Regions from separate parts of the Homo sapiens genome. Here regions 2 and 3 are each linked to region 1. Evidence: fine-mapped expression QTL. A gene starts in region 1. Each other region holds a variant in brackets. All regions are shown on one strand. Distances are from middle to middle.

Region 1 (8,005 bases):
TCATGAGGAACCCCAAAATGAATGTAAAAGGCAAAAGAAACAGGAAATCATTCTTAGGGAAGCTGCTTTTTACCTCTTCAGCTTCATCTTCTTGATCCCAATTCCTATCTGTCAGTTCCTTCTCGGCATTTCTTTTGGCCATGTTTTCGAACCTAAGTTATAGAAAACAGAAGAGTTTATTTTTCTAGAAGAATAAATTCTTATAAAGAATTTTAAAAATTCACTCTAGCATGAAGTGAGATAAAAACATCTCTGGTTTTTTTATCAGGGAAAAAAAGCATCTGGAAACTGCTTTAATGAGAACTTTACATTGGTGCTGTTAGGCTCCCAGTGTTACAAATCAATAAAGGCTTTTTCCAGGAGGCAGAAGAAGATTCCTAGGGAACACCAGCAGTCCTGAACAACACTAAACCGACTCCATTTGGAAAAATTAAAATGAAATATCAATTGATTTTTTAAAAATCTGGAATCTGAAGTACTGTATATATAATCAAAAAGTCCTTAACTTATTCTACGCATATACATACTGAAAGTCTTGTCATAAAGAAAATAATTTTAATATTTAAAATTCTCTTAAAGATGACCCATTAAAGAAGTGTATCTTTCAGTAAGAATACGAATAACGGGCTGGAAACGCCTCCACAACACGAATACTGTTCTTTAAGCTACAGCCGACAGAGATACATGGTTCCCAAGACTGAACATTTTGTTGCTTCAAATTGTATATTGCCAAGACAATTAGAAGTCCAAAATGATTAACATGGGTGTGTTAGTATTCTGGGAACTTATAACCTTTCAAAAACAAATCATTGGCTTAACTCTTCAATACGATGGCATTAGTGGAAGGGGCAGGAGTTGGGGAACGGCGTGAACTCTGCAGTGGATTCCGGCACCTAACCAAAGAGGGTGCTCCTGTCCATCCCTTAAAATTTACGATTTGTTTTCTGATCTTAATATCATAACAACAAAACAAAGAAAACCCACAACCCAGAGCTCCGCTATGAGTGTTGTGCTGCCTTCTTCACTAACTCTCCAGCTGGACAAAAAACCTTTCCATTTCCCCTGCTACCCACCTCGCCCAAAAACTTACTGATTAGTTTTGGGGACCTGCCAGGTCTTGTTAAACCTGCCTGAACTCCTTCGTGATACTCTCCCCACTCTTGTTTGCTCTCAACACCACAATACACCAGAGTAAGCTTCCTTATTCTGGTGTATTGTGTAATACAGAGTGTATTACAACCCCACAAAGTGGTCGCTAAGATATGAGGTGACATATCACTCTTTAGTATCTAAAAGTAAAATGCAAATGCTGGTATTCCAAAGGCCTCTACAATTTGATGGCCAGTGGAGTAATTACATACGGGCTGTCAGCTTTTAATACATTTTAGTGATTTTTAAATTTTGTAAGTTTATGCTATTTTTCTGATTACAAATGATATTAAAGTCCAAGATTCTAAAATATAAAGGATGAGAAATAAATACACTTTCCATTCGCTGGGAACCCTCTCTTTTTAATGTCCACCCAAAAACACTTGGTTAAGTTTTGCCATTAATCTTTGTCATACAAACAAAAACAAATACAGGAATAGACATAATTCTTTACTGTGCAGAAACCAGGTCTCTGTACGGATTCTTTTTGGCAATTTTCCTACTCATTAACTAATGTCTCCACCAGAGGGTTGGAGAAGTAAGAAGTCACCAACGGTCACGTTTGCTATTTAAGATTAACTGTGGGGCCAGCGAAGTGCCTCACGCCTGTAATCCCAGCACTTTGGGAGGCCAAGGTGGGCAGATCACTTGAGGTCAGGAGTTTGAGACCAGCCTGGCCAACATGGTGAAACCCCGTCTCTACTAAAAATAAAAAAATTAGCTGGGCGTGGTGGTGGCACCTGTAATCCCAGCTACTCCGGAGGCTGAGGCAGGAGAATCTCTTGAACCCAGGAGGTGGAGGTTGCAGTGAGCTGAGATCGCGCCAATGCACTCCAGCCTATGTGACAGAGCAAGACTCCATCTCAAAAAAAAAAAAAAAAAAAAAAGAAAAAGAAAAAAAAATTAGCTGTGGAGAAAAAAGGGATGGAGCTGAATACACAAAAACTGTAATAGTAAAATTGTAACTTCTAACTCATACCCACAATGAAGAGACAGGTGACGCAGTAAAATAGTCTAAATAAATGTAGGGGCTTCCACGTCCTAACATACTCACCAAATCAGTATATAACCAAAACGCAGGGATCTTTGTTTTGTTTACAGATATACTCCAAATGCCCCAACAGTGCCCAGCTCAAACAGCAGGTGTCCTGTCTGTCATTAGATCAGTGAGCTGGGGAAGTATTTCCCCAGTGAGCATAAAGTATTTCAAAAAATACTAAAAGATGCTGGCATCCCAGTTTTGCCATTTTCTAGCTGTGAGAACTTGGGCAAGTTATATTTAATTTTTGTGCCTCAGTTTCTTCATCTGTGGAACAGGAAGTATTAAGAAAGTTAAGATAAACAAAGACTGGCTTAGAACAGTGCCTGGAGCAGAGGAAGGGCTTAATAAATTATTAAAGAAACAAGTTTTATTAGAAGCAAAGGCTATAAACTATCATTTTCCCTCCAAAACGTAAAAGTTGTAGCATGGAAGAAGAATAACTTGGATTACAAACCAGATTTTTACAAATATTTTACCAAATCCCTATTTTATTTCAAAGCATGACACTTCAGACAATACATTTTACTTTTATGCTAGAAGTGGGGGGGAGAAAAAACCCTCTGTAAAATATTCAGAACAAGGCCTGGCACCTGGAGTCTTATGTCTAGCTACTGTTATGAAGAACTTAAGGGAGGCGGAAGGATCTCTTGAAGCCAGGAGTTGGAAACCAACTTGGTCTCTACGAAAATAAAGATGGACATAGATTAGATGAATAGAAATAAAAAATTAGCCGAGCGTAGTGGCGCACGCCTGTGGTCCCAGCTACTTGGAAAGCTGAGGCAGGAGAATCACTTGAGCCCAGGAGCTTCAGGCTACACAGTGAGCTACCACTACACTGAGGCCTGGTGACAAAGCAAGACCCAGTCTCAATCAAACAATCAATAAAAGGGAATTTAAAAAACGTTTGCGTTTGTGGGTAAAAAACCAAATTAGACATGATTTCTAGGTATGAAGCAACGTGGTGGGAGACTGAAAGTCTAGGTAAACTGGAAAAAAACATTATTTGTGCCTGATATAGTTATGTGGTCTCTGGCATCTGGTGTAGCTCTGCCCTTGGAAAGCTCAACTTGTCAACATCACCTTAAAACGAAAACACAGATTTGGCTACACTTAATAGTGAAGTGCCTTGTTGGAGGAAAACAACAAGGGGGCCAAGTAAGGAGACAGAAATACCTAATCTCCAAGCTGGTTCTTAATGGAACCGAGCAAATGGGTGATGAATAACCCGGGAACGCAGTAAGACAGGCCAGAGAGGTAATGCGCCCAAGAGAAGAGAGACGAGGGGCGGCCAGGGGGAGAGGAAGCTCGAGAGGAATCGCTAGGAAGGAAACGGAGAAGACCACGCCAGGACAGCCCTGCCAGCCCCCTACCTCCGGCGGGGCCGCAGGGGAGAGTCTCACTCGAGTCGGACGCCGCAGCCCGGTGGGGCCCGGGCCCCGCTTCAAAAACAGCCGGGGCTGCGTCGCCGCTGTCATCCCACCCCACCCTCCACCCGTCGCTCCCCCACCGCGCGCCCCGCCCGGCCCGTGCGCCCGACCCAGGCTCCCTCCCTAGAGTCCCGACCTCTAGCCCTGTACCCCACTTCCCAGGGTCCCGTCCTCCAGCCCCTTAAGCCCCTCCCCAGGGTCTGGTCCCCCGGCCCCGCACCCCTCCCCAGGGGCCCGTCCCCCGGCGCTGAACCCGCACCTCCCTCCCCAGGGTCCAGTCCCCAGCCCTGCACTCGCACTCCCCTCCCAGGCCCGAGCCCGCTCCCGCCCTCCCGGCCCTGGGCTCTCAGCACCAGGCTCCCGCCCTCAGCCTCTTCTCCTCCCGCGCCCGCCGCCGCTCCTCACCTCCTCGGCGGCCGCCGCTGCACTCGCTGGGTCTTGGTTGCGGCGAAACCCGGGGCGCAGCGGCGCAGGGGTCTGGAGCCCGCAGGGGTCGCCGGGCTGAGCGCGCTCGGCCGCTTCCGGTGCTGCGCTGCGGAACTCAGAGGACTTAGTGCTCGGCAAGCCCAGAGACTCAAACACCATATCCCTGGGGGGGCTCCTCACGCTGTGTTCGGCAGGGAGGCGAGAGCGCCGGTTCAGCCAGAGACAGCTGGGGGAACCGCGCCGAACACGCTCCGGGCGGCCATTTTGTAACTCGAATCTACCCCCAAAACCAATTCGAAAAAAAGGGAGGAAAGAAACGCCCGCGTTCAGCTACTGCGCAAGCGCGCCGGCGCTTCCGGCAGTAGCACCTCCTTCCGCCGGCCGGGCCCCTTACGCGGCGCATGCGCCCAGCTCCCTGGAAACCGGCGCGGGGCTGAGAATGCCGGTCTCGCGCAAGCGCGCACGCGCCGACCTTGATCTCGTAGCCGGCGCCAGCAGCCGCGCTTTGGGGCGTCGGCTCACGTGGGGCCGGCAACGCGTCTTCCAGGATGTTCGCGCGCTAGTCGCCGCTGAGGGGCCGGCGATGCGCGAGGAGTTCCGGCGAGGAAGGTCGGTCAGTGGACATGGCCGAGGCCCGCGGTGTCCGCGTGTGGGAGCTGCAGGGCTGAGGAGAGGCCGCCCGCAACCCTCGGGAATCGTGTGAGGTGCCACTGGGGTCGCTTCACATCAGGAGGCCCCGTCTCGGGGGACGCGCGCAGGTGACCCTGCTGGTCGTACCTGGCCGGGGTGGCCCGGAGGGGCTGGGTCTCGGCGCCAGGAGGGGCCGTGTGGGCCGCCTGTTAAAGGACCCCTCGTTCGCTGACATTTGATTTTGCATTGGGTGCCTTCTCTTCTGTTTTTTTCAGCCAGTGAGATCCGTCCTGGGCACTCAGCTGTAGAGCAGGGGAACGAGTCCTGCGCTTTTTGCGCTGAGGTCTCCTGGCCCGTAGGCCAGGCAGCCTCTGAGCTCCTTTCTCACCAGCAGCTTGCGATCCCTCATCCCTGGCCCTGTCACTCCCAGCTGTTTCCAGTGCCGCCCTTTTTTTTTTTTTTTTTTTGAGATGGAGAGTTTAACTTGTTCGCCCAGGCTGGAGTGAAGTGGCACGATCTTGGCCTACTGCAACCTCTGCCTCCCGGATTCAAGCGATTCTCCTGCCTCAGCCTCCCGAGTAGTTGGGATTACAGTCGTGCGCCACCACGCCCGGCTAATGTTTATATTTTTAGTAGAGACGGGTTTTCACCATATTGGTCAGGCTGGTCTCGAACTCGTGACCTCAGGTGATTCCCTCCCCCCGCCCCACCACCTCAGCCTCCCAAAGTGCTGGGATTACAGGCCTGAGCCACCGTTCCCGGCCTCGAGCGCCTTCTTATAAACTGGATGGTGGTTTTTGTTTTCACCTTCAAAGTCGAATCTCCCTAGTCCGTTTATTACCAGAAAGAGGTCTCCACTCAGACCCAGCGAGAGGCTTCTTGGATGTCGCGTAGGAAAGAATTCGGGGCGAGTCCACGGACTAAAGTGAAAGCAAGTGTATTAGAGAAGTGAGAAAGCAAAAGAATGGCAGAGCAGGGCATTCCTGAAAGCGGGAGGAGGAAGGCGCCCGCCTTAGGTACAGTGCTTGTTCAAATCTAAGGTAACACAGCCAAAGAAATCTTGGGGGACATGGGCTCTACCACGAGGGCCCACGACCAAGGTTTCATGCGCGTCCGTGTGAAGAGACCACCAAACAGGATTTGTGTGAGCAACATGGCTGTTTATTTCACCTGGGTGCAGGCGGGCTGAGTCCAAAAAGACAGTCAGCGAAGGGAGATAGGGGTGGGGCCGTTTTATAGGATTTGGGAAGGTAATGGAAAATTACAGTCAAAGGGGGTTGTTCTCTGGTGGGCAGGGGTGGGGGGTCACAAGGTGCTCAGTGGGGGAGCTTCTGAGCCAGGAGAAGGAAATTCACAGGGTTAATCACTTAGTTAAGGTTGGGCAGGAACAAATCACGATGGTGGAATGTCATCAGTTAAGGTGGGGCAGGGCCTTTTCACTTCTTTTGTGATTCTTCAGTTACTTCAGGCCATCTGGGCGTATACGTACAAGTCACAGGGGATGCGATGGCTTGGCTTGGGCTCAGAGGCCTGACACAAGGATTGTTCATCTTTGTTTACTGACTTTGGCAAAGATCTATATTATCTTTAAAGCGAAACCTAAATGAAGAATGCTTTTGATCTTAAGATATTGTTAGGTTTTGAAGGGAAGACGAGAGTTAAAGAATGACACACAGGTCGGGCGCTGTGGCTCACGCCTGTAATCCCAGCACTTTGGGAGGCCGAGGCGGGTGCATCACCTGAGGTCAGGAGTGGGAGACCAGCCCGACCAACATGGTGAAACCTCATCTCTACTAAAAATACAAAAATTAGCGGGGCGTGGTGGCACATGCCTGTAATCTCAGCTACTTGGGAGGCTGAAGCAGGAGAATCACTTGAACCCGCGAGGCAGAGGTTGCAGCGAGCCAAAATCACGCCATTGCACTCCAGGCTGGGTAATACAGTGAGACTGCGTCTCAAAAAAAAAAAAAAAAAAAAAAAAAAACAAAGGGCAGCTCAACAGCAACACAGGTATATGGCAAAAACCTACAGAGATGGGGGATCAGCTTAATGCCAGAGCCCACTGCTGCTTACAGGCTGGGGTACTTATAGGGCAGGAGGGGAATGGGCAGTATGGCTTGCCATGTGAATATACTTACCAGTATATCTATCCATAAAACGTTCTATGATCAGGCAGTTTGGCCCTTGTTCCCTCAGAAAGTGACAGTGATGTTCCTTGCACCTTTGCTGAGCAAGGTTTGATAGGGATGTTCCTTCAATTGGGCCTTTACCCAACAGGGTTTGGTAAGAAAGTTGGGCAGGAAATTTCTCACGGCCTGAACCCCCGTGGAATGTTTCGCTTTGACCAGTGTCTGCGAAATGGCGGGGGGCTTAGAAAATGGTGCAGTTTGGCAGGGCGTGGTGGCTCACGCCTGTAATCCCAGCACTTTGGGAGGCTGAGGCGGGTGGATCACAAGGTCAAGAGATCGAGACCATCCTGGCCAACATGGTGAAACCCTATCTCTACTAAAAATACAAAAAATTAGCCGGGCGTGGTAGCGGGTGCCTGTAGTCCCAGCTACTCAGGAGGCTGAGGCAGGAGAATGGCGTGAACCCAGGAGGCGGAGCTTGCAGTGAGCTGAGATTGCCCCACTGCACTCCCGCCTGGGCAACAGAGCGAGACTCCATCTCAAAAAAAAAAAAAAAAGAAAGAAAGAAAATGGTGCAGTTTGGACTAACAGATACAGCGACATCAAAATGTTTCCTGGGTCTGTTAAGTCCTGGGTTTGTTTAGTGAACGTTATTAATCTGTTCCTGTAACCCTAAACATCTTGTGACTACTAAGAATGCAGCCAACAGGTCTCTGCCTGATTTTACCTACTGCCTCTTCAAGATGGAATTGCTCTGGTTCCAATGCCTCTGACAAACTGGCTGCTTGATCTCTAGGTTGTGACCATGTCAGGGATAGAGGCAGCTTAGGTAGAGGTAGACTTTCTTGTACTCAACATTGAATTGTGGCTTAGTTAAAATCAGAACTTTCATTCTTGGAATAATACAGTATTGTAAGGGTAAGCCAAATGATTAACACATTTACTTAATTACACATTGTAGCATTGAAATAACTGATGCCTTTCTAATGCAAATAAAAAAGATTTATGTATATGATAGCACTGTAGCTGTCTTGCGCCTTACTGGATGGATTTCATTGCTGGCTAAAATGACAACTTTAAACTGGCTATAACTCAGAAGAATGGAGGCACTTTGCACGCAGACATCTACCTCCATTGAATTTGGCTACTTCCTTTTAATGAAGCTCAAGTCTCATGTTATGAAATACTCCTCCAAAGGTGTT
Region 2 (8,005 bases), 27 kb before region 1:
GGGCCAGCATTTGGCCAAGCTCGGAGGCTTGGCCAGCACTGCTGGATGGCTCAGAGCAAGCTGGGCTCCCCGTCTGTAAGATGGCAAAAATGCTGCCCCCCTCACAGGGTGACCATGAGGACCAGTCACAGTGATGTGTGAAAGGGCTCGCTGGTCACAGAAACGTGTACAAATCATGCTATTTTAGAGATCAGCCCTCAATTTGTAAGGCATGTGAACAGGGCACGCGGTGGGCTGGTGGTTTCATAGCCGACACACAGCGCCTACCATGTGCAGCTGCCTGTCCGACCCCATCTTACAGACGAGAAAACCAGCACACAGGCACCAAGGAACTGTCCGGAACTAACAGCAGGGGCCGGCGATGGGAGTCAAACCCAGGCACGCGGCCTGGCCTGCATGCTGAGCCACATGGTGCTGTCCGGACAGATGGACAGACACTCGGTGGAGTCTGCCTTTCTCAGGCCCTAAATCCCTCTCCAAAGGGTACTTGCGATGCCGGATTTAAAACTTGCTCAGAGCCACTTAGCCACTTGAGAACCAGACAGTAAGGTGTTACTCCCAGGTTTGTTTTTCCAAAGTAACAGATGACATGTGGAATAAAGTAATAGAGTAACAAGTGGCAGGGCCAGAACCAGGGTCCCCAAAGTCCTGGTGTTGGCACATTTGTACTTCTTGTAAGACCATCTTTAATTTTTCTGGGAACACACCTGCCTTTTGTGTAATGCGGGGAAGACTAATGCATGGTGACACCTAGTTTTCCTCAACAGGACACTTGATCCCAAAACCCCTTTAAGACCTTAGGTTTCCTCAGCGGAAAACTGTACTTTAATCCCAAACCCCCTTTAAGACATATTGGGGCTGGGCGCAGTGGCTCACGCCTGTAATCCCAGCACTTTGGGAGGCTGAGATGGGTGGATCACCTGAGATCAGGAGTTCAAGACCAGCCTGACTAACATGCTGAAACCCCATGTCTACTAAAGATAGAAAAATTAGCTGGACATGGTGGCAGGCACCTGTAATCCCAGCTACTCGGAAGGCTGAGGAAGGAGAATCACTTGAACCTAGTAGGCAGAGGTTGCAGTGAGCCGAGATCACGCCATTGCATTCTAGCCTGGGCAACGAGAGCGAAACTCTGTCTCAAAAAAAAAAAAAAAAAAAAAAAAAAAAAAAAAAAAAAAGATACATTGGTCTTTAAACCCAAACCCCCTTTAAGGCATGTTGGTCTCAAGGGGATTTGGGATTGAAGCACAGCTTTCTGTTGAGGAAACCTAGGTGTCACTTTTTAGAACATTAAAAAGAAAGTTGTAGGGTGGGCTTTTCCATTTAAAGGAATGTGATGATCCTAGGTTCTGATGAGTGATAGGTGGTCTCCGTTTATACCCTTTCTTCTTTTGGCACCTGTAAGTTCCGGTAGTGGCCATCTTACATTCTCATGTCCTGCTGGAAGTGCCTAGTTGCCTGCAAAGCCAGCTAAGGCTTATTATTTCAAAAGAAGATTATTTAAAACATGAGTGACAGGTAGTCAGAAGAGAACAAAAGGACGCAAGATACTCTATAGCCAAGTCAGCTTGGAGGCAGGATGGGTTGCTGAGTGAAGTCGCCGCTCACTTTTGGATTCTTATGGACTGTGAGTTAGTCTTCCCTCTACACGGAGTCACAGGAAGGGTATAAATGCATGTTCCTGAGGTGCCCTCCCCCAAAGAATGTACCTGCACTCAAACCAGGATCTGTTTTTGCTGTTTTAATCATAAATAGACTAGTTAGTAGAAGACTTTTGAAGAACAAAGTAAAACTTTTTTTTTTCATTAAAAGATGTCCCAGAGGAAAGGCCCTGTGCAGCCAGTATATTCTAATGACTGCCTGGACCATGTCCTAATATGGTGGTTTTAAGTTGTTGGCCAAAATCCTTTAAAGACATACGAAACATCTGCCAACTTTTTAGCGAACTTAACAGGTTTCACTGACGTTTTCCTCAATTTTTGAATTTAGGTGGGATTTGCTTTCATGTCCTGTTTCAAAAACCAAGTGTCTCTTGACAGCCCACTGGTTCTTCCTGTCCTCTTGCTCTAGTCTGTATCAGAAAGCAGAATGACTGTACTTTTGTTTTACAAACAACCACCTGATAGGACGGACACTCCACGAGATAAGGAAAGGCACGTGCCCTTGAGCTTGAATGGAAGCAGCCTCTGGAGGGGGCAGCCACTGCCCTTCGAGGGAGAGCAGCTCTTCAGCAGTGGCCAGAGTGCCACGTGACTCTGCAGATGACCCCTGGGAGCCGGGTGATGGGCACCTGCTGGGGCTTTTGTTTTTTCTTTTTCACTGGCTGGCTTGATCCTCAGTGGCAAAAGGACCCCTGAGCCCCTTCTCCGAGCCCTGGAGCACTCCTCGGGACACCGAGTGGCCTCAGGGCTGGGTTCAGAGCTCCTCCCGCAGGGGGAGCCTCAGAAGTGGAGGCAGCTGCTGATGGGTGAGTTTACAACTTCTTATCCTGCCTAAGGCGAGTAGGCGTTTTTATTCCGTTTCCAGTCCTTGAGCTCAGCAGATCAAAATAACAGTGACCCTGCAACCCCACAGAGCCCGCGACACGCTCGCTTTCTTCCCCGCCCTGCCCCTTTAGTCCCCGCTCTGGAAGGCCAGGCAGTTTAGGTGTAAATAGGTATCTTTTATGGTTTCCAAATGAATTATTTGTGTGAGAGTAATTAAATCTGTAAGAAAACCTGTTGAGATTCTTCACTATGAATTATGACTTCTACAACATGTATTTTAGCAAAAACACGATGCTGGCCTCCACTGGATAGCTCAGTATGCTGATTGCCAGTGATAGTTCTGTACGCGTTACCAACAGCGTCTTTATTAACCCTCT[T/C]CCACATCCAGTGGAAATCATTGCTAGGCGGTATTTGTTGGTTGGCTGTTAGCTTTGCTTTATGATTTCATGTTTCTTTTAAAGGTTGTTTTGCATGTTGAATATTAAATTTTTTTTTTCTGTGTCTTCCTCTAATCTTTTTCTGTAATGGGAATTTCAGGGTAAATACAGATATTATAGCAAAGCAATAATTTAATGATTGAAACTTAATTTGCCCCCAGTGATTCCTGAAACTTTTTTTGGAGCTTTCACACAAACTACTTTTTTGAACTAGAGTGTGTTGGAGGCAGAGAAAAATCACCCTGTGTGCTGGCTTTGCCTGCCGTGAGCCAGTGAGGAGTCCGAGAAGAGGTGGGCAGGTCAGTGATGGGTTTGGCCAGAGATGCCATATTTGCAGTATTAAATCATTTCAAGATGCATTTCAAGGCCTGGCACGGCTCACGCCTGTAATCCCAGTGCTTTGGGAGGCCGAGGCGGGCAGATCACTTGAGGTCAGGAGTTCGAGACCAGCCTGGCCAACATATGGTGAAACCCCCATCTCTACTAAAAATACAAAAATTAACCGGGCGTGGTGATGTGCACCTGTAGTCTCAGCTACTTGGGAGGCTGAGGCAGGAGAATCGCTTCAACCCAGGAGGCAGAGGTTGCAGTGAGCCAAGCTCATACTACTGCGCTCCAGCCTGGGTGACAGAGACTCCATCTCAAAAAAAAAAAAAAAAAAAAAAAAAAATGCATTTCAAGTTAAGCTTTTAGCCTCCACAAAGTAGTGCACACCCTTTCAGTTGTACTATAAAATTTCCCAGGCTTTTTCAGAGAACCTCTTAACCCTCACAGAAATGGAAAAAATGGAATAGAGGCCAGGAGCCCCAAGTTCAGGTTTTGCAGGCTCCAGGTAAGCTGGCTGATCTAACGGAAGATGAGGTGTTTGCAGCAGGCGTCTGTCTTGCAGCTCAGCAGGTGAGGGGACCTCGAGCAGGCTCTCGCATTTTCCGGCTGATCCTTCCGAGTCTGCTACTGCAGGGCCCTCGTAGGTGGGAGCAGCCTCATCGTCGCCTTTCACACTGTGAGCTTTTCCTTTCCACGGTCAGATGGACTTAGTGAGTTACCAGCGATGGATGTTAAGACCTAAGACACCGCAGAAAGTTACAGAGTGGAAAATGAGGGGCAGAGAAAAGAGGGTCTGAGAGGAACGCAAGCATTCCGGAATACAGTAAGGGACATCCCATCAATGACACTTCTTGGGAACAGCCACTGCCTTAGAAACACCAGACCAAGAGAATTTTCTGACCACAACCCCAAAGGCAGCCCATGAAGATGGAGGTTAGGAAGGAGGCGGTCTAGCAGGTGAAGACTTCCTTGCCATCCAGGTCAACCCCCTTCTTGTTGAACAGTGGGAAGTCCTTTTAAAGCAGTCACCTGAAAAATGTTTAATAGAAATTTGGGGAGAGTCTCTATCTTGGAAGCTGCCTGCGGGAACCTCATTCCTATTCATTGCCTCCTCTTGGAAGGCTAATCTGCTATTTCGGTTCCTTTAGCCTTAGATGAGCTTTTAGGAAGTACTGTCATGCCCTAGCTTAGAAGGAAAAAAGGTAACTGGAAAGGAAAACCTTTGGGAATCTTACACTGGGAGGAGAGGGGAATGTAACTCAATCCATATAATAACACAGTTCATTGTAAATAGACATGTTGACTGTGGTAACATGCTGTACTTTGTGCCTGATTGTTAAAATGCTAAGAACAGCTGGAAAATTTACATGAGGAAGAGAAAATACTTGTTTCTGGGGATAAAGAAAGGATCATGTTGTCTTTTCTTTCCTTACAGTGTCACTGAATTGCCCCTGACTTAGCCTCTCCATCAGCCAACAGGTTAGAGAGTTCTTTCCTCTGTGTGGACTGGGGTCTTTCCTCTTGGAATCTGATTTTAATGAAACAATTAGGTTGCTCATTTTGAAATAACCATGGCTTTTAGCCAAATTTTATGCTACTCTGAATAAACAATTTTGCTTAAAAGATTTTAGCCACTTCCAGAAGCCAGTGCAGTTGAGTAATTTAGTGGGCACGTATATCTCACTTAACGTGGCACGCTGGGGAGAGGTGTGTGGGGCTGGGACCTCAAGCTGCACCACCTCAGACACACTTAACCCTGGGCCTGGGTTTTCTCAAGTAGAATCACCACTTTCCTTCCTGGGACGCGACGATGTTGAAGTGAGACAAGGTTACGTCCAAAGGCTGGCATAGTTGCTGGCAACGCTGATCACTACTGCCATTTCTTCCCGGCGTGTGCAAGGGGTATTTCACGGGCCATCTTTGGAGTCATCGGGAGTGCATGTGCCAGCGGTTCCCAAATGTGAGCATGCCTCAGGATCACCTAATGCACGCTCTAACCCAACGTTCAAACCCAGAAGACCGGTGAGGAAAATACTTTGGATCAGTGATGACGGCTGCACCACTGTGAGTATACTAAAAGCCACTGAATCATGTACTTTAAAGGGGTGCAGTTTATATGAATTCTATCTCAATTTTTAAAAATGGGCTCCAACCTGAGGCGCTGATTCAGTAGCCTAGTTGGGGCCCATGGGTTAGCCTTTTGTGGGGGGGTGGATGGGCACGGACAGGGTCTTGCTGTCACCCAGATTGGAGTACAGTGGCGCAACCACGGCTTACTACAGCCTGGATCTCCTGGGCTTAAGCGATTCCTTCCACCACCATGCCCAGCTAATTAAAAAAAAAAAATTTTTTTTTTTTCTAAAGACAGGGTCTTGCTGTGTTGCCCAGGTTGGTCTCTAACTCTGGGCTCAGCAATCTTCCCACCTCAGCCTCCCAAAGTGCTGCAATTACAGGCGTGAGCTACCTCGCCCAGCCGGGTTTGATTTTTTTTTGTTTTTTTGAGATAGGGTCTTGCTTTGTCACCCAGGCTGGAGTACAGTGGCATGATCACTGCTCACTCCCTGGAGCCTCCACCTCCTGGGATCAAACCATCCTCCCACCTCAGCCTCCCAAGTAGCTGGGACTACAGGTGCATGCCATCATGCCTGGCTACATTTTGTATTCTTTGTACAGCCAGGGTTTTTGCTATGTTGCATGTTGGGGACCAGCCTCAACACCACCCGTAGGGTACCCGAAGTCTGGTGGCGACAAAGGATTGAGAAGAGACAGGTTAAGAGTGAAGGTGGGAGCCAGGGGGCCAGTTGCAAAATGTGGAGGCTGCAAAAGGCTTAGAGCTCTGGTCTCCACACTATTGAGTCCAATCACTTAGATTTAAGCAGATGTTCGGGGCGAAACAGTGGAAGGGCGGCGGCGCGTCACAGGCATCATCTACGGCAACAGCGGTTTCAACGAACCTCCTCTGTGCTGCTCAAACAGCGTATCTTTATCGGAGAGTAGCTGGTGGGAGCGGGCTTAACTCGGAGCCTGCACGTCTGTCCGCATTCCAGTGTTTCAAAGGAGTGTCTCTCTCCTTGAACACAGTGTTTACAGATACGAGAGCAGGTCTCACTCTGAGCATGGGAACATGATGGCAATTAGGAGGCTCTCCTCCTCAGAGACCTCTTGTGGCTTTCCACAACTTAGTGTCCTGTATTTTTATGGCCAGTTTATACAGGCACCCCACAAGCCCTTTTCCCAACAGTTGCACAGGCTGGTCTCAAACTCCTGGGCTCAAGCGATCCACCCACCTCGGCCTCCCAAAGTGTTAGGATTACAGGCGTGGGCCACTGGGCCCGGCCGGGCTTGCATTTCCATCAACTTCTTATGTGTCAGTCCCAGGACCACTCTGAGAACCCAGGTTCTAGCCCAGCCATGCAGCTGAGTATCTAAACAGGGCTGCTGCGGCTCAGGTGCAATCTTCCTCTTCAGATGACATTCTCTTAGTGTCATTTAGTTTCTATTAGATGTTAACGGTTCAGGAAAATACTTTGATGGATAACTTAAATCTTTGCAATATTATTTTTTTAAACCAGAAAATACCCCTTATAAACCAAATAAATGCTGAGTAACATAGGAAAGGTTAAAAAATAAGTCTCAAAGGTTTGCTTTGAGGACTAACCAAGGTAATACATATAAAGCACCTAGCCAATGCTTTGCACACTAGCCCATTAAGGATCAATTGTTCCCATTCCAATCTGTTAAGATTTTAATCCAACAGAAACCCTTGGTCTGAATGGTTTAAAAGTAGTCTCGGCCCCCAACAAGGAGTCTGATAATAAACTGGTCTCTCACTCACCTCCAAGCTGACCTTCCTGTTGTTCAAGGAAGTTTCCGGTTGCAGCTTCTGCGTTGATTCTTCTTCCTCAGGTCTGTCTGACTTGTATTAATGCCAAGTGCATCACAGAGGAACATAAGACTCACACATTGGGATTTTGTTTACTTTTCATTTATTCACATTTCATGGATTGTTACACTTCCTCGATGGGAGCATTCAAAAACTAATACAAGCTGAGATTATATTGTCTGACAATTCAAGTATTTTAGTTTTAGAAAACAATTTCCTATTTAAAGTAAAAAGCAAACAATTTATCCATCTGATTGCTAAGAAGTTTTACATCTCCATTACAATTGTGTCTGCATCAAACGGAGAGTCCTTCGTCCTCAGTATGATTGTTACTGGCTGAGAACATACGGTGACCTGTGTTCTGAGTGCCTGCTTGGAAAAGACCTCCCTGTCATCTGCCATACTACGGGACAAATCAGTATCTACTCAAATTCCCACTTCCAGAATGAGAGGACTCATCAGGGGTTTAGGAGTTTGCAAAGCCTTCAAAATGTATCGTGCTTGAATTTTGACTCTTCTGAAATAGAATAACTGACAAATGCTCAAAAAACAAACTTGTTTAACTTTTACTGAAAAGGCTCTCAGTGAAAACTTGTTTTGAACTCTACTAGTAAGGTAGAATATTAGTTTTTCTTCCCCTCCACACCAGAAAAGGCAGTTTTCTCTTTTTTTTTTTTTTGGCATGCAGCATATATAAAATGTGATCTAGAATTGAAATTGTAAAACAGAATAATCCTCTTAAAGAAAATCAGCCTATGAACAGTCAGACTTGTCCTTCCATGGAAAACATAATCTAAACTTCTTTAAAAACTGGCCATATTTTTTCAGTCTGTAATTCGAATAATGAAGATGGCATAACAAATTTTTTTGCT
Region 3 (8,005 bases), 59 kb after region 1:
CTTGAACCTGGGAGGCGGAGGTTGCGGTGAGCTGAGATTGTGCCATTCCATGCCAGCCTGGGCAACAAGAGTGAAACTCCATCTCAAAAAAAAAAAAAAAAAAAGCAGATACTGATCTGGACCAATGAATTTCCAGAGTGGCACAGCATGAGGGAGTCTCTATCTTCCTTCCTCAGGGACCTGCGGAGCTTCTGGCTCTTGGATCAGCTGTAGGACTTTCACCAATATTTCTGCATGGGAATGTCCATGTGGTCTTGACACTAATGGGATACCATCAAGTATCCCAGGAAGCACCCACACCCACCCACGGGTAAGGAATGCCCAGAAACTGAAGTCAGTACATTGGGACTGGGGTATGGCTTAAACCCTTTGTACTATGAAGCAGAATACATTGAATAATAGGAGATTAGAGCTGGAGGAAGTCGTAGAAATAAAGTATTAGAATAATCTCATGTTGTAGATGATGCCTTTAGCCTGGATGGATTAAGTAACTTGTTAAAATCCATAGTGCCGGTTAATGGAGAATTCTAACAAGAACTAAGAATGATACGTGTTTGTGCATATGTGATCAAGCTAGAAAAAATATATGATGAGACCTTTTTTTTTTTTGAGACAGAATCTTGCTCTGTTGCCCAGGCTGGAGTGCAGTGGTGTGTTCATGGCTCACTGCATTCTTGACCTCCTGGGCCCAAGCGCTCCTCCCACCTCAGCCTCTGGAGTAGCTGGGACTACAGGTGCCCACCACACCCAGCTAATTAAAAAAAATTTTTAGAGATAGGGTCTTTCTATAGTGCCCAGACTGGTCTTGAACTCCTGGCCTCAAGTGATCCTCCCACCTCCGCCTCCCAAAGTGCTGGGATTACAGGCATGAGCCATCACACCCAGGCTGCTGAGATGATTTTTGAATAGTATCCCAGCTTTTAAAAATGTATATTTTTAAGAATTTGATAAAATGATAAAATTTCACCAACAGTCACTCAACAACTAGCAACTATTTGTTAATGGTCTACTCTGTGCCTGCTACTGCTTTGGGTGCCAGAGGTACAACAGGAATGGAGATGAGGTTTCTGGCCTCCTGAAGTTTCCATTCTCATCACAGGAGAACCACAGTCATCAATCATAACAAGCTCATGTCAGACGATGATAAGCATCACAAAGGTAATAAAATATGATCAGCTCTCGGTTCTTTCATTCACCTGACGAGTGTTTATTGAGCTTGGACTGTTTCTTGGGCACTGCCTTGGACCCTGGTGAAATGGTGGGGACAAGACAGAACAGGTGCCCGTGCTCAGGTGCCCATGCTCATGCAGATTTGCTTCTGGTTGGGAGTGATGCAACGACGCACAAGTAGAAACAACCACTGTGGAGGAAGCTGCTATGTGGGAAGGAATGGAGGGAGTGGTGTGATGGAGCAAGCAGGGATCGGCAGATGGAGGGGGTTATGTGGTGTGGACGGGTGGAGTGGGCAGATAGAGTGCTTCTTTTTAAGAAAAATTTTAAATATATAATAAAAAAATAGACATTGGGTCTTGCTATGTTGACCAGGCTGGTCTCAAACTCCTGTCCTAAAGCAATCCTCCCATCTTGGCCTCTCAAAGCACTAGGATTACAGGCATGAGCCACCGCACCCAGCCGAGCTTCGAGTGCTTCTAACAGCAGGTGCAAAGGCCCTGGGGTGGGAAAGGGCTTGGCAGCTTTGGTGAAAAGGAGGCCAGCATGGCTGCAACCTGGTGAGTGAGGGAGAGAGGGGAAGGAGATGTGGGCGCCAGATCATGCAGACCCTCATGCGCTGGTGAAGGGTTTTGATTTTATCCTGAGAGCAGTTGTCCAGGGGGCCCTGGAGAATGTAAGGAAGGAGAACGTCAAGGTATGATGTTTGTCTTTAAAAGATTGCAGGCCGCTGTGCGGGAAACGGGGCGGCTGTCGTGGGTGAGACTGGAAGCTGCCACAGGGTCAGGAGGTCCTAAGAGCAATCCAGGCAAGATATGGTGGTGGCCTGGACCCGGGAGTGGACCGTGGACGTGGTGAGCAGTTGACACATGGGGCAGATATTCTGAATGTTCTTCCTGGTGTTGCTGACATTTCCAGCTCAGCCCCTGCCCTACAGCCATAAGAGCTTGGAGGTGGGACACTTGCCCATGGCATCTGAGTCATCTGGGATGGAACTGGAGAGGAGGACCCCTGAGCCACCTTGGCTGCAGCCCTATGCTCTGAGGAGACAGAGCAGCCTCTCCTGACAGGTGACAGCTGGGTTTCCAGGATGAAGTTGAGGAGCAGTGGCCGGGGATAAACATAGGCTACCTGGGGTTGACACCCACCCCAGTCTTCCCTTCCTTTGCTCCCTACTAGCCTCCAGCATGCTCATGACCATGCAGCCTCCCTGGCTCCATCAGCTCAGGCTGTTACGACAAAAATACCACAGACTGGGTGGCTTCAACAACTGACATTTATTTCTCGCAGTTCTCAAGCCTGGGAAATCCAAGAGCAGGGTGCTGGCAGATTTGGCATCTGGGGAGGGCTCCCTTCCTGGTTTGCAGATGGCCGTCTTCTGGCTGTGTCCTCATGGGGTGGAAAGAGCTGGATAACTCCCTGGAGTCTTTTTTCTAAGGACGCTATTCCACTCATGAGGGTTCCACCCTCGTGGCCTAATCATCTCCCAAAGACCCCACCCCTAATACCATCACATTGAGGATTAGGGCTTCAACAGAGGAATTAGAGGGGGGCACACACATTCAGTCCTTGGCATCCTCTAACCTCACATGGAGCACAGACCCAGGAGCAGAAGGCATGGGCTGCAGGCTCCACATTAACCCCAGCTGCCTTCATGTCTCAGGGGTAAGCTGGAGTACATTCATGGTAGAATGGCCAACATAGTGAATGAATTCAGAAGCCAAAACCTGGCAAGTATCACAGGCTGGTTCATCCATTCGCATTTTTGCTCAGCAAATACTAATTGAACATTCATAGCATGCTGAATGCTGACGGGTGCTGGGGTTGATGGTGAACAGGACCCAGGTCCTGCTGCCCAGCTGTCCAGAGGGCAGTAGAGACCATGGCCAGTCCCTGTGATCAGTGCTCTGATATGGAGGTGGGGGGACCCTGGAGGGGAACCCCACCGAGCTTTGGAGTCAGGGAGGCTTCCGAGGAAGTGGCACTTACTCTGCGTTGGAAGAATGGGAAGAATGGGAAGGAAGGAGGTCTTTCTTCTCCTGTGATCACCCATTCAACACCAGGGCCCTTCAGTTCTCGCTCCCAAATGCCTCTCGTCTCTCTCCTTCCCTCTTAGGGCCCACTGCTACCCCTTGCTTCAGACCCTCATTGTTTCTTGCCCGGGTTACTGCAGCGGTCCTGCCTCCCGCCTCCCAGTCCTTTTGCTTCCTCACCGTCTATGTTATCTCTCAAATAAAATATACAGAACAACATCTGATCACATCCATCCTCTTGGTCCAACCCTTCGCGTAGGATAAGTTCTGCTTGTTTTCCTTCTAGTACTTTACTAGTTCAACTTTTAAATCTACCTACAATTTGTTTTTACTATTTTAAATAACAACTTTATTGAGCGATAATTCACATACCATAACACTCACCCTTTTATACATACAATCCAGTGTATACAGTTTTACAGATACAGTTCCATTTTCGTGTATTCAGGGTTCTATAGTTATCACCCCCATCTGAACGTTTTCCTCAGCCCCCAAAGAAACTTCACGCCCATTGACAGTCACCCCTCCTCCTGCCTCCACTCCAGCCCCAAGCAAACACAAATCTACTTTTCATCTCTTCGGATTTGCCTATTTGGGACATTTTGTATAAATGGTCTTCTGTGACTGGCTCCTTCCACTTAGCATCTTGTGTTCATGATTCATCCATGGTGTGGCGTGTATTAGTACCTCATTCCTTTTTATTGCCAAATAACATTCCAACGTGTGGCTAGACCACAACTTGTCTGTCCACTGCTGAGCTGCTGGATGCTGACATTTGGACTCTTGGGCTCTTATGAGTAACGCTCC[C/T]GTGACCATCCCTGTTCGGGTGTTCTGGTGCACACATCTCCAGTTCTCCTGGGAGGATAACACTTTCGAACGATTCGTTTTCTTTTCCTCTCCTCAATTCCCTTTGTTTGCTCTTCCTCCTACTCAAGCAACTATGCAGTCTGGCAGCACTGTCGCAAATGGATACCTTGTTTCTCTCACTGCCTCCCATAGGGTGGGGCTTGGTTTCGATTTGTCACTTGATGTTTACTTTGATCACTTGACAACAGTGGTGTCTGCCAGCATCTCTCTTATAGAGTCATTCCTTTTTTTTTTTTTTTTTTTTTTTTGAGACGGAGTCTGGCTCTGTCGCCTAGACTAGAGTACAGTGGCACGATCTAGACTCACTGCAACCTCTGCCCCCCAGGTTCAAGTGATTCTTGTGGCTCAGCCTCCCCTGTAGCTAGGATTACAGGCGTGTGCCACCACACCTGGATAATTTTTATTAGAGATGGGCTTTTTACCATGTTGGCCTGGCTGGTCTCGAACTCCTGACCTCAAGTGATCCACCCACCTCGGCCTCCCAAAGTGCTGAAATTATAGGCGTAAGCCACCATGCCCGGCCAAAGTCATTCTTTTTTCATGTTCTCTGCCATTTTGTGGGTAGGTACTTTGAAATTCTGCAAATATCTCCATTCCTCACCAAATTCTCAGTGCATTCATTTATTTTTTATATCTGTATGGATTCCTGGTTTCCTGTTATATTCAATGGAGTATAATTTTTTGTGACTATAATTTATTTTTATGTTCAGATTGTCCTAGATTTGGCCAGTGGTCACCTTTCCAAAGCAGCTTCTTGGTTTTTGACGCGTTCTTATTATTCTTTGAGCACTCCCTTCCTCTCTAAAGTCCCTCTCCACATGGTCTCTCATCTTGACCCCAAATTCTGGGTTCAAAGAGGACAGAGTGTTCATCAAGCGTGTGTGGTGTGCATGTGTGTGTGTGTGTGTGTGCGCGCGCATGTGCGTGCGTGAGTGCATGTGTGTGTGAGTGCATGCATGCATGAGTGCGTGTGTGTGTTTAACGCGCTGCTGGACCTCTGGCTAAAGCAAGTCACGTGGCTCAGGCCAGTGTCCACATGGGCAGGGCCACAGAGGGACCCAGGTGGCCTGATCCACTGGGGCCACTAGTCCTACATCTCACCATGCCATTGTTGACAGAGGTGTAGACAAAAAGAAAAAATTTTCTCCTATAAAAATACAAGCCCCCCAAAATTTTACAAATGCCAGCTGAAACCCAGCCTCAGCGTTGGAGAGAAAATAGGGAGTTGCAGGGAACTGACAGAGAATGAAAGGCTCCAAGCCAAGGTGGCAGCCCCTGTGTAGCCCCTGCTCATTGTTCTAGGTAGGACGTAGGACCTAGACCCAGTGTTGCCAGATCTTCCGATTTTTTTTTTCAGAGAAACTGAAACTCTTTAGAGTTTTAGATGAAATTCAGATATTAAAGTATGGGCTCAAATGTTTAATCCTATGGGAGGCAACAGAGCCCACTGGGGCTGGCATGCGGCTGGCAGGCCACTGCTGGCTCCCTCTGGTTGAGGCTTCCGGCATCTGCACTTCCAGGCAGAGCCGGCCCTACACAGCCCCAGAAGGCTTCCGTTGCAAGGGGGCAGAAATCCCACCCACGCTGGGTCTGAAATAGGAGGAAAGTTATCACTCAGTAAATGGTAACTGAAAGGGGCTGGGGCTTTACAGCAGAATCGGAATTGGGAATTTTTTTTTTTTTTTTTTTTTTTTGCGACGGAGTTCCGCTCTGTCACCCAGACTGGAGTGCAGTGGTGCTCTTGGCTCACTGCAGCCTCCACCTCCCGGGTTCAAGCGATTCTGCTGCGTCAGCCTCCTGAGTAGCTGAGATTACAGGCACCTGCCACCACGCCTGGCTAACTTTTGTATTTTTTTTTTTTTTTTAGTAGAGAGACAGGGTTTCACCATGTTGGCCTGGGTGGTCTCGAACTCCTGACCTCAGGTGAGCCGACTGCCTTGGCCTTAGTCAAGGCCAGCACTTTGGGATTGCAGGTGTGAGCCACCTCGCCCAGCCAAATTTTTTTTTTTTTTTTCAGAGGCTGGGGCTGGCTTTGGCTATGCTGATGTCATGGCTCAAGTGACATCCCCAGGCCTCAGTTTCTCCATCTCTTTGCTCTGTTTTCTCATTAGCTGGCTTCATTCTCAGACAGACTTACTCTGTGCAACATGGCAGCTCCCGGCTTCCATGACCCTCGGTGCTTGAGTGCCCCAAAGGAGAGAAATTCCCTTTCCCCAAGTGTTCAGCTCTGCCAGGCTGCCATCCCCTCCCCACCCCATCGGGCACTACATCTGTGCTTTGGGGGCTGCTCAGGAGCCTGCCTGACCTGGGGGAAGCAGGGACATCCACGCCGAATTACACAGAGCAGGACAGCAGCAGGCAGCAAAGGAAAGGGGAAGGAACCCGAGCAGGGAGAAGCAACAAGTGTCAATTAATCATAGGAGGTGAGGCCAGCTTTTGCCTGCAGTCAAGGGACATGAATATTGAGACTCTAGGTCAGCAAGTGACTTGTTTTAGCTCTTACCTATAGGACAAGAACTTAAGAATCTCTTCTGCTTCTCCACTCTGTGCTCTTTTTCCTGCATCTTTTTTGAGATAGAGTCTTGCTCTGTTGCTCCCCAACCCCCATCTTTTTTGAGATAGAGTCTTGCTCTGTTGCTCAGGCTGGGGTGCAGTGGTGCAATCTCAGCTCACTGCAGTCTCGACCTCCTGGGCTCGAGCTATCTTCCCACCTCAGCCTCCTGAGTAGCTAAGACTACAGGTGCATGCCACCATTCCCAGCTAATCTAAAACAATTTTTTTTTTTTGTAGAGACAGGGATCTCACTATGTTGCCCAGGCTGTTCTTGAACTCCTGGGCTCAAGCGATCCTCCTGCCTTGGCCTCTCAAAGCATCAGAATTACAGCCACTGTCCCTGGCCCCTGCACTTTTTACTAAAATCTCTTGATGTTGTGAAGTAAGTCCCTGTCCTGATGGGACTTGGCCATGGCATTCCCTAGGCATTAATTTTGTTGCTAGAACTTGGACACATGGTCAGAGTGGAATCTTGAGACTTTTTTCTTTGTAAGATCTTATATTATTATTATTACTTGCATATTCATTGTAGAAAATTTTAGAAAATACTAAAACTCATAATCCAGTCTCTGAAAGGTAGCCACGGCCAACAGGTTGGCATATTTCTTTCTTTATACCTGGGTACGCTGGTGCTCTATGTACAATTGTGTACCTGCTTTCTAAACTAGAAAATCTCAAGCTCCTCAAGTTGGTAGCGTGATGATTGGCCTGGGACTCCTGAAGTTCCAGCCTCAGGACAGGACAGGACCTGTCCCTGGGACCATGTCCGCTAGCAAGGGGCACAGATGACTTCCCATTTCTGCCTGGCCACATGGCTCCCGATGCTTGGGCTCAGTCTGCAGATGTGATGGAGGAGGAAGGACACGTGCCTCCTTGCTCTGTCTGCTCTCCTTTTCTCTTTGCGCCACCCGGTGGCAGATGAGCAGGACATCCACACTGTCTTTGATGGTTAGGTGCACGACCCCTGACTCCTCACCCCCCCACCTCACCCTAGAAGGATTTGTGAAGATGGTTTCTGAGTGTTCGATGGCCTTCTAGGCTGACAGCGGTGGGTCCCCGGCGATGGTTCTGGCACACCCCCAGCCCATTTACGAAATGCACGCTGTTTACTCCGCGTCTCTTGAGTGGGTCCCAGGGGACCATTTTCCTCCCTTAGGTAAGTCCAAGCTTAGAGAAGTTCAGCACACACAGATTATGCACTCAGCCGACTGAAATGATTTTCTGTTGCGATTAGAGTCAATGGTGAAAATCACACACATCACTTCGTGAAGTAAATTATTGTTCGCTTGATAGATCCTAATAGCTCTCCAGAGTTGTTAAGGCCTAAACAGTCCATGGAGAGTTTGGGGAGGTAGGAGGGTGGGAGGCAGGGGGAGACAGAG

Direction of the effects. Alleles are on the strand shown, and positions count from the first base shown. SD is a standard deviation of normalised expression in the study named.
For the expression in lymphoblastoid cells of the gene that starts at base 4,395 in region 1, C is the low allele of the variant in region 2 and T is the other (small effect, 0.21 SD a copy in TwinsUK).
As copies of T replace C in region 3, the expression in fibroblasts of the gene that starts at base 4,395 in region 1 goes down (moderate effect, 0.63 SD a copy in GTEx).

Evidence for each region. PIP is the estimated chance that this variant, and not a neighbour inherited with it, causes the effect.
Region 2: its variant is fine-mapped to the expression of NUP50 in lymphoblastoid cells (TwinsUK, PIP 0.95).
Region 3: its variant is fine-mapped to the expression of NUP50 in fibroblasts (GTEx, PIP above 0.99).

What each region holds. Positions count from the first base shown.
Region 1 is chr22:45,160,315-45,168,319 of GRCh38, reverse strand. It overlaps NUP50 (nucleoporin 50), which reads right to left and starts at 4,395. Exons shown (of 8, transcript NM_007172.4): 1 at 4,024-4,395; 2 at 74-152. The coding sequence starts at 142. NUP50-DT (NUP50 divergent transcript) reads left to right here and starts at 4,539. Exons shown (of 3, transcript NR_038956.1): 1 at 4,539-4,743. RefSeq lists silencers at 3,624-3,803, 3,834-4,063, 4,834-4,883 and an enhancer at 3,944-4,466.
Region 2 is chr22:45,187,226-45,195,230 of GRCh38, reverse strand. It overlaps KIAA0930, which reads left to right. Exons shown (of 10, transcript NM_001009880.2): 10 at 1-2,987. It overlaps LOC105373064 (a long non-coding RNA gene), which reads left to right and starts at 3,619. Exons shown (of 4, transcript NR_146602.1): 1 at 3,619-4,207; 2 at 4,686-4,729; 3 at 5,031-5,314. It overlaps NUP50 (nucleoporin 50), which reads right to left. Exons shown (of 8, transcript NM_007172.4): 8 at 7,214-8,005. RefSeq lists an enhancer at 3,862-4,362. The variant T/C (reference allele first, on the strand shown) is at 2,864.
Region 3 is chr22:45,101,549-45,109,553 of GRCh38, reverse strand. No RefSeq gene overlaps it. Among named protein-coding and RNA genes, the nearest start is that of NUP50-DT, 58 kb to the left of the region's middle. The variant C/T (reference allele first, on the strand shown) is at 4,011.